2 separate regions of the Homo sapiens genome follow, and region 1 is linked to region 2. The links come from fine-mapping of genetic effects on gene expression. A gene starts in region 2. The other region holds a variant in brackets. All regions are shown on one strand. Distances are between the middles of the regions. Region 1 overlaps CACNB2 (calcium voltage-gated channel auxiliary subunit beta 2). Region 2 holds the start of CACNB2 (calcium voltage-gated channel auxiliary subunit beta 2).

The links. PIP is the estimated chance that this variant, and not a neighbour inherited with it, causes the effect.
Region 1: its variant is fine-mapped to the expression of CACNB2 in skeletal muscle (GTEx, PIP above 0.99). The same link has a PIP of 0.9 or more in thyroid.

Annotation. Positions count from the first base shown.
Region 1 is chr10:18,306,850-18,311,244 of GRCh38, reverse strand. All of the region lies in intron 2 of CACNB2 (calcium voltage-gated channel auxiliary subunit beta 2), which reads right to left. Among named protein-coding and RNA genes, the nearest start is that of CACNB2-AS2, 48 kb to the right of the region's middle. The variant C/T (reference allele first, on the strand shown) is at 2,576.
Region 2 is chr10:18,137,954-18,142,348 of GRCh38, reverse strand. CACNB2 (calcium voltage-gated channel auxiliary subunit beta 2) reads right to left here and starts at 1,925. Exons shown (of 14, transcript NM_201596.3): 1 at 1,493-1,925. The coding sequence starts at 1,612.

The sequences.
Region 1 (4,395 bases), 170 kb before region 2:
AATATGGATGGACAAATAAGTAAAAGCAGATATTTGGAAAATAAAAAGAAAGAAGAGCCTAAAAGGTCCAAAATAAGCAGATAAACCAATTTCAGGGAAACAAAAATACAAGGAACTTAAGCAAACTTAAACAAGCAGAAAATCCAAATTGGTATCTTCAGAGAGAGTCAAGAGATTATTGCATTTATAAAACAAGAACAAAAAGCTATGAAAAAGTACTGATGAGGCAATGAAATGTCCTTGGAAATTAAAATATACTTGCCAGCATAAAAAAATTCAATGGTCAGCATAATTAATAAAATGAATGTATTTGAAGACTAAAGTGGAGGTTTGTAAACCAAAACAGAAAATGAAAGAAAACAGTCCGGGCACAGTGGCTCAGGTCTGTAATACCAGCACTTTGGGAGGACAAGGTGGGTGGATGACTTGAGGTCAGGAGTTCGAGACCACCCTGGCCAATGTGGTGAAACCCCATCTATACTAAAAATACAAAAAAAATTAGCCAGGCATGGTGGCGCATGCCTGTAATCCCAGCTACTAGGGAGGCTGAGGCAGGAGAATTGCTCGAACCCAGTGGGTGGGTTTCTTTTCTTTATAATTTTCTTTTTTTTTTTACTTTTTTTTTTTTTTTTTTTTTTTGAGATGGAGTTTTGCTATTATTGCCCAGGCTGGAGTGCAATGGCATGATCTTGGCTCACCACAAACTCCGCCTCCTGGGTTCAACTGATTCTCCTGCCTCAGCCTCCTGAGTAGCTGGGATTACAGGCATCCACCACCACGCCCAGCTAATTTTGTATTTTTAGTGGAGATGGGGTTTCTCCATGTTGGTCAGGCTGGTCTCGAACTCCCAACCTCAGGTGACCCGCCCACCTCAGCCTCCCAAAGTGTTGGGATTACGGGCGTGAGCCACCACGCCCAGCCTAAAAAATCACTTTTTTAAATTGTATGCTTTCCTTAGTTTATCAACACAGTAAACCTAATTATTACCATCAAAGTAGACTTAATTTTAGAGAGGATAAAAGATGTTAAGAACTACGAAACCCAATCTTAATTGACAAATTTTAGAATTTCAAAGAATGAGTTTTAAAACATTGCTGAAAATACAACAGAAAAATAAACCTGTAGCACGCAAGTTGAAAAAAAAAATCTATTTGAGACCAAATTAAGAAACTGTAACTGAGTATTTACACACAGCTTAGAAACAGCAGCACTGCCATCATTTTTAGTTGGATATATAAATTAAGTCCTCTGATGATATTTCTTCAAATAACTGGTATCAGAAATAACTTTATTCATTTCTAAATGGCAAAATAATGTTAATTTTAAAATTAGTTTTCTATCTCCATTCTAATAATCTTATCAATAGTCTTTTTATTATGTGCAGGTTTGAAAACACACACCTTCCTCATTCTCAGGTGACTGTTTATCCGGACATCTATTCTGAAACAAACAGAAATACACCAGATCAAATAAAACCCACATTTTCTGGGCTGGGCGAGGTGGCTCACACCTGTAATCCCAGCACTTTGGGAGGCTGAGGCGGGTGGATCATAAGGTCAGGAGATTTGAGACCAGCCTGGCCAACATGGTGAAACGCTGTCTCTACTAAAAATACAAAAATTAGCTGGGCATGGTGGCGCGGGACTGTAATCCCAGCTACTTGGGAGGCTGAGTCAGGAGAATCGCTTGAACCCGGGAGGCAGAGGTTGCAGTGAGCCGAGATCGCACCATTGCACTCCAGCCTGGCGACAGAGCGAGGCTCCACTAAACTAAAAAAAGGAAAAAAGAAAAATCCACATTTTCTGAAGAGTCTACCCTGTTGAAGACCTGAACTGCACCATGCAGCCCCGACCCAACCACCTGTGTTCTCATGTGATGTGTACCTCTACTTCCCAGTCAAGCTCCGGCTTCAGTGTAAAAATTCTTGGCAGTCTGGTGCTTATGTAACTGTTGGAGACATTTTTGACTCTATTGGTCTCCCTCTCTGTTTCTGAATTGTCCCCTCTTTCTCCCGTCATAAATACAAGAGTCACTTTTCCTGCTACCTTTAAACATATAAAAAATAAGATAACATATTTAGTCTGAAAATAACCATTCAATATTTTAAAATTTCAGAAACATATCAAATGACAGCTTCACTTTTACTTCATTGTTGACAATATTCATTTTAGTGAAAAAATTGGTAACGACGAGGGGAGAAGGACAGCATCACTTCCGAGGAATAAGTTTTTTTTTTCTATTTTAAGGGCAATTGTGCATTGCTTCCAAACCCAAATGAGAATCAGTGGAAGTTAGTATTCAAATATGACTGCTTTAAAATTGCATTTTTTGCAAGTGCTTCATTTTCTGGCTGACATCAGCAAATACACATCAGTGAGCTGATGACATTTGATACAAAAGGGACAACTTGTTCACCCAAAAAAGTTGTCAAGTCATACCCTTGGCTCATTTTGCCAAGAGCCAAAGGTGTCAGGCATACCGTATGCCTTCTGTAACGTTGCTGGCTCCCATACTTGGCACACTTGGGGTTGTTTTTGGCAGGCTGATGCGTATCCAACCTACAATTCATTCTGAC[C/T]CCAAGAGCCAGATCTCATGAAAGTGACCTTGTGGGGAAGCTGAGTGGTAACCCAAGAAATCACTGTGAGTGCTTTTACAGCATTGCCATTTTAAAATATACTTGCCATTTTACAATGATCTTTCAAGAAATGTGAAGAATAGAAAATTTTGCTGTAGGACACTACAATGGGAACACAGACACCAGGGTCCCCTGGAGAGCGGAGGGCGGGAGGAGAGTGAGGATTGAAAAATCGCCTAGAGGGCACTATGCTTATTACGTGGATGACGGAAATAATCTGTACATCTAATCCCTGTGATAGCAATCCTTCCCTATACAGCAAACCTGCACATGTACCCCTGAACGTGAACATTTTTAAAAAGAAAATGTTGGTAAAGCTTGGGCGTGGTGGTTCACGCCTATAATCCCAGCAATTTGGGAGGCCAAGGCAGGCGGATCACTTCAGGCCAGGAGTTCGAGACTAGCCTGGCCAACATGGCGAAACCCGGACTCTACCAAAAATACAAAAATTAGCCTGGCATGGTGGCGGGTGCCTGTAATCGTAGCTGCTCAGGAGGCTGAGATAGGAGAATCGCTTGAACCTGGGAGGTGGAGGTTGCAGTGAGCCAAGATCACACCACTGTACTCCAGCCCAGGGTGACGGAGCAAGACTCTACCTCAAAAAAAAAAAAAAAAAAAAAAAAAAAGTTGGCATATATTATTTTAGACTTAAGTTATCCTACCTTTTAATTTCTCTGACTGAAGCAGTGTAATACACACATGCTACTCGCAGAAAAATGAAAGCACCTTCTTCTTTCTTGCCTTCTGCAGGGTAAGCAAATGTTTGAATTAATTATATTTCTTTCATTATCATTGATTTGAACATTTTTATGTTTTTCTATTTTTATTAAGAGATAAGCTCCTTTGTTCCATTGCCAGAACATTTCCTATTTATTTTATTCAGTGACCTCACATCTTTTTAAGTCTGTGGCATCAAATTATATGTTCACTTTCCCATCCTTGGTTCTGTCTTTTAATTCATGCAACAAATATTTATTGGACATGTCTCCTTTATAAGCCATCACTGTGCTGGGAACTTGGTATGAACAAAATAGATAAAATATAGTCTGCCTTCAATTTAGTAGGGAAGTGGGGATTAAAAAACAAACAATTGTTACATATAATAAATGCCATGAAGGAAAAAGCATCGCATTTATATTTATTTATGTGAGACAGAGTCCTGCTCTGTTGCCCAGGTTGGAGTGCAGTGGTGCAATCTCGGCTCGCCACAACCTCCACCTTTCAGGTTCAAGTGATTCTCCTGCCTCAGCCTCCCGAGTAGCTGGGACTACAGGCGTGTGCCACCACGCCTGGCTAATGTTGGTATTTTTAGTAGAGACAGGGTTTCACTAAGTTGACTAGGCTGGTCTCAAACTTCAGGCCTCGTGATCTGCCCGCCATGGCCTCCCAAAGTGCTGGAATTACAAGCGGGAGCCACGTGACCGGCCCTAAAAGAATGGCATTTATTTACCAACTTTTGAGGTATTCCTCTGGTTTTTTAAACACGATTTCACCTAGCTTATTTTTTTTTTCTCCACCATTTTCTCTGCCATAATCAGGATGTGAAATACAAAATCCTGCCTTTACCCTTGGACCTTGTCTTTCCTCTTCTAGAGGAACTTTCACTTCCTAACCAGGAACTGACAGACATCATCCTTACCGCCTCTTGCCTTTAACCCATATTATTTTAACCCAAGGACCTCAAATCTAGACACTTTTCTCAGATCACAACCTTTTATATTTTCACCCTATCTGCTGCTTCTTTTAAAATAAACCTACAC
Region 2 (4,395 bases):
TCCCTACTCGGCTTGTGAAGCAAACAGCCCAGGGTGGACCAAAATCTAGCTGTTTTACCACTACAAAAGAAATAGATTTCTGATTACACAAGTCCTTGGTGTCCACATTCTTCCCCTTCTCAAGTCAAAGTGAATTATGTGTTTTAAGTTAGCACATTAATTTCCCAATGGTAAAAGAAAGTTCAATAAAGCTAGACTACTATGCCACTTGGAACTGCCATGATTACAATATCAAAATATCTAGAGCACTCATGTTCCACCTATCAAAACAACAGCAAGAAAACATTTGCCACCTTTATTAGCTTGTCACACTCCTGCCCCCACTACTACAGCAAATGATACTCTAACATGCTCTCTAGTGTGTGTATGTGTGTCTACGTATTAATATATAAGTATATATACACACACATATATATCTTACCGCAAATTAAAATCTGGCAAATGTAGGCTTGAAATCAACAAGCCAACACAGTTAAGCAAACAGACATTTCTCCAGAATGCTGCCTGAAATGTAACCAAGACCTCTTCACATCACTGGCCAGCCAACAGCCAGCCCGCAGCTAGGAGTCTGAAGTCATTTCCCTGCCGGGAGAAAAGTTGAGCGACTCCTCATCGCTGAGACCTGGAGGTGTCTGTAACCCAAACTGTACCTGCTGAAGCCTTACGTAAAAACGTAAAAACCACCTTGTCATTGCCCAGCGCCTACAACTGACATCTCCAATTTCACAACAACCTGCAGCGAAGCTGACTTTTTCCAGAAACCGCAAACACTCAACGGAGAGAAAGGGGATCCTGGAGATCCCTGAAATGGCTAACATTTCAGGGGAGACGGAAAAATAAAAACTTTCTTGTCCCCAGCTCACTCGCTTCTTAAGGGAAAGGCATGAGGTGGGACAGGCAAACCTTGGCAAGTGCCCGAGGGGACTGGAGAGCTGTCAGCCCCAGGTGCGCAGCGTGGTCCGGGCAGCTCTGGGGGGATCCGGCAGGGCACCCCCATATTCGCTCCCCTCCTGCCCACCTGCACCCCATCATCCTCACACCCACGCCCACCCCGGCTCGGAGCGTGGCCAGGAGAGTCGGCATCGTAGAAAGCGCTGCGGGAAGCGGGCCCCCTCCCGCCCACCCGGACTCACGATCTTCAGCAGGTCCAGTCCACTCCCCTGATTCATGTCTCTCCATGTGCCTCTCCCGGGAAGGGGCGAGGAGGGCCAGCTGGAGCAACCCGGGAGAAGTCTGGGAGGACTGGCAGGTCTCCCCCGCCCTTCCCCACTGGCTTTTCGGAAGCAGAGAAAAATGGAAGCCGAGGCAGAGCCAGGAAAAGGCGCAAAGGGGCAGGGTCCCCGGCGCCAGGAGAGGAGCAGAGGGTGGGCAGGCGACGAGGGGAGGAGGTGCGAGGCTAGAGATCCCTGCAGTGGAGGCGCCGGGAGAACCCGAGGTCGGTGCCCTGCCCGGCGGCTCACAAAGGAAGGAGAAGGCGCCGCGCTCTCGCTACCTGTGCGGCGGCTCCGAGCGCCCCCGCGGGAGCCACGTTCTCTAGCAGTTCCATCTGGATCTCCTGCGCCACCGCCGCCGCCGCTGTGGGAGGCGACTTGGACATGTCCCTTTGGACCATTGGCGAAAAGTCGGCTCGGAGCGAAGCAGCCAGCCCCCGGCGGCGGGTCCCCTCCTCCTCGCCCCCGCCTCCCCGCGCTCTGATCGGCTCTGGGGGCCGCCCAGGGCTCAGGCCCGGCCGTTCTCGGCGCAGCGCCCCGCAGCGCCCCGGGACTCGGCGCCCTGCTGCCAGGCGCTCAGTGCGCGGGACGGGGCCGGGGCATCGGGCGAAGCGAGCCGCTCGGGAGGCGGGACGCGGGGGCGCGGCTGCGGTGCCTGGGAGAGGGGAGCCCTCAGCGGGGCAGCCGGGGCCGGGAGAGCGGGCGCAGCGCGGCGGGGATCGGAGCCGCGGGCGCCGGGAAAGGTCCTCGCCAGGAGGGGAGGGAACTCCGGGAGCGCGAGCCAGGGGGAGGCGCGTCGGAAAGCGAGAGTGACAAGCAGCCTACAAGCCGAAAAGTTCCTCGCGGGAGGCGCGCGCCGCGTGGGCTCCGACTCAGCCGCTGCGCGTCGCCGTGGCACACAGGCTGAAAAGTTTGCGAAGCCACAGAAGCCAGGCCCGGCGCTCAGGGGGCCTTGATCCTGTTCCCATGGCCCCAGACCACCCCTCAGGAACCCTTAGAGCAGATCTCTTAACTTTGGAGGGGAAGGACGACGGAGGCTGGGTTCCTACACTGAAAGTTTTAAATTTGTAAAGCCTGCTGGCAGCCCGGGAGAGCAAATGTCTGCAAAGAACATCTTCTGGGCAGCTGAAAGCCCTTGCTAATGTCAGTAATAAGGATCCAGAGAAAGAAATGGCATTGATAAAGATCATCAGGTGATCCCACCTGAATCTGCAGCTGGCCTCGTCAACTAGGTGGGAATCCACCCAACCTGAGACCGAATGTTTTGCTTTATGACTGCTGTCTTCATCTTTGCCAAATTAAATTAGCACTTCTTTCCAAACATAATTGAAGTTTGTTGTTGTTGTTGCTTGTTGTTGTTTTAGACGGAGTCTCACTCTGTCGCCCAGGCTGGAGTGCAATGGCGCGATCTCAGCTCACTGCAACCTCCGCCTCCTGGGTTCAAGCGATTCTCTAGCCTCAGCCTCACGAATAGCTGGGATTACAGCCACAGGCCACCAAGCCCAGATAATTTTTGTGTTTTTAGTGCAGACGGGGTTTCACCATGTTGCCCGGGCTGGTCTTGAACTCCTGACCTCAAGTAATCCACCGGCCTCGGCCTCCCAAAGTGCTGGGATCACAGGGGTGGGACACCACGCCAGGCCAGGGTTGAGGTTTTTCTATAGGGGTGAAAAGTCTTAGTGTCACATTTTTGACAAAACAAGCACTTCCTTAAGATCCAGAATTCTTGATAACAGGATAGTGACTATGGTGAGGGTGTTTCACTTACAACATTCCGTTCAGATAGTCCCAAGGAGCCACATTTTTACATGATTGAGTGCAACTTATTTCAACAAATTTTACTACAGTGGAAACTTCTGTAATGAGTTTTCCAGGCATTTTTTTTTTTTTTTTTTTGAGACAGAATTTCACTCTTGTCACCCAGGCAGGAATACAGTGGCACGATCTTGGCTCACTGCAACCTTCGCCTCCTGGGTTCAATCCATTCTCCTGCCTCAGCCTCCCGAGTAGCTGGGATTACAGGTGCACGCCACCACAGCCGGCTAATTTTTTTGTATTTTTAGTAGAGATGGGGTTTCACCACGTTGCCCAGGCTGGTCTCGAACTCCTGACCTCAGGTGATCTGCCCGCCTCTGCCTCCCAAAGTGCTGGGATTACAGATTTGAGCCACTGCATCCAGCCTAATTTTTGTATTTTTTAGTAGAGACAGGGTTTCGCCATGTTGGCCAGGCTGGTCGCAAACTCCTGACCTCATGATCCGCCCACCTTGGCCTCCCAAAGTGCTGGGATTACAGGTGTGAGCCACCGTGCCCATCCAGCTCCAGAAACCTATTTATATGTTATTTTGTAACAACAAACTGAAAGTTTGGTATATTGAAATACACATGCAAAAATTTACTATAATAGGCTTCAACTGCCTTCTATAGTTTACTATGATATATTAAATTACATGAGATACAGTACTTTTCTCCTCAAAGATAAGCATAGACATTTTAAACCTATCATCTCCACCATAGCACTGATTTGCGCCAGGCTTAAAGAATGGGTCTTGATACAGTTAAAGATTTAGCCATAAAGCATCATTGATTTTCCTAAACTTTGGTATTAAAAATGCCACTTTTATGGGCTACGGACACAAATAGAAAATTCTCAAAAGAAGATATACAAATGGCCAACAAACATATGAGAAAATGCTCAACATCAATAATGATCAGGGAAATGCAACTCAAAACCACAAAGTGATACCACCTTACCCCTGTAAGAATGACCATAATCAAAGAATCAAAAAACAGATGTTGGCATGGATGCAGTGATCAGGGAACACTTCTGCACTGCTGGTGGGAATGTAAACTAGTACAGCCACTATGGAAAACAGTGTGGAGATTCCTTAAAGGACTAAAAGTAGAACTACCATTTGATGTAGCAATGCCACTACTGGGTATCTACCCAGAGGAAAAGAAGTCATGATTCAAAAAATATACTTGCACATGCATGTTTACAGCAGCACAATTCACAGTAGCAAAATTGTGGAACCAACCCAAATGCCCATCAATCAACGAGGTGATAAAGAAACTCTGATATATATGATGATGGGATACTACTCAGCCATGAAAAGAAATAAATTAACAGCATTTGCAATGACCTGGATGAGATTAGAGACTATTATTCTAAGTGAAGTAACTCA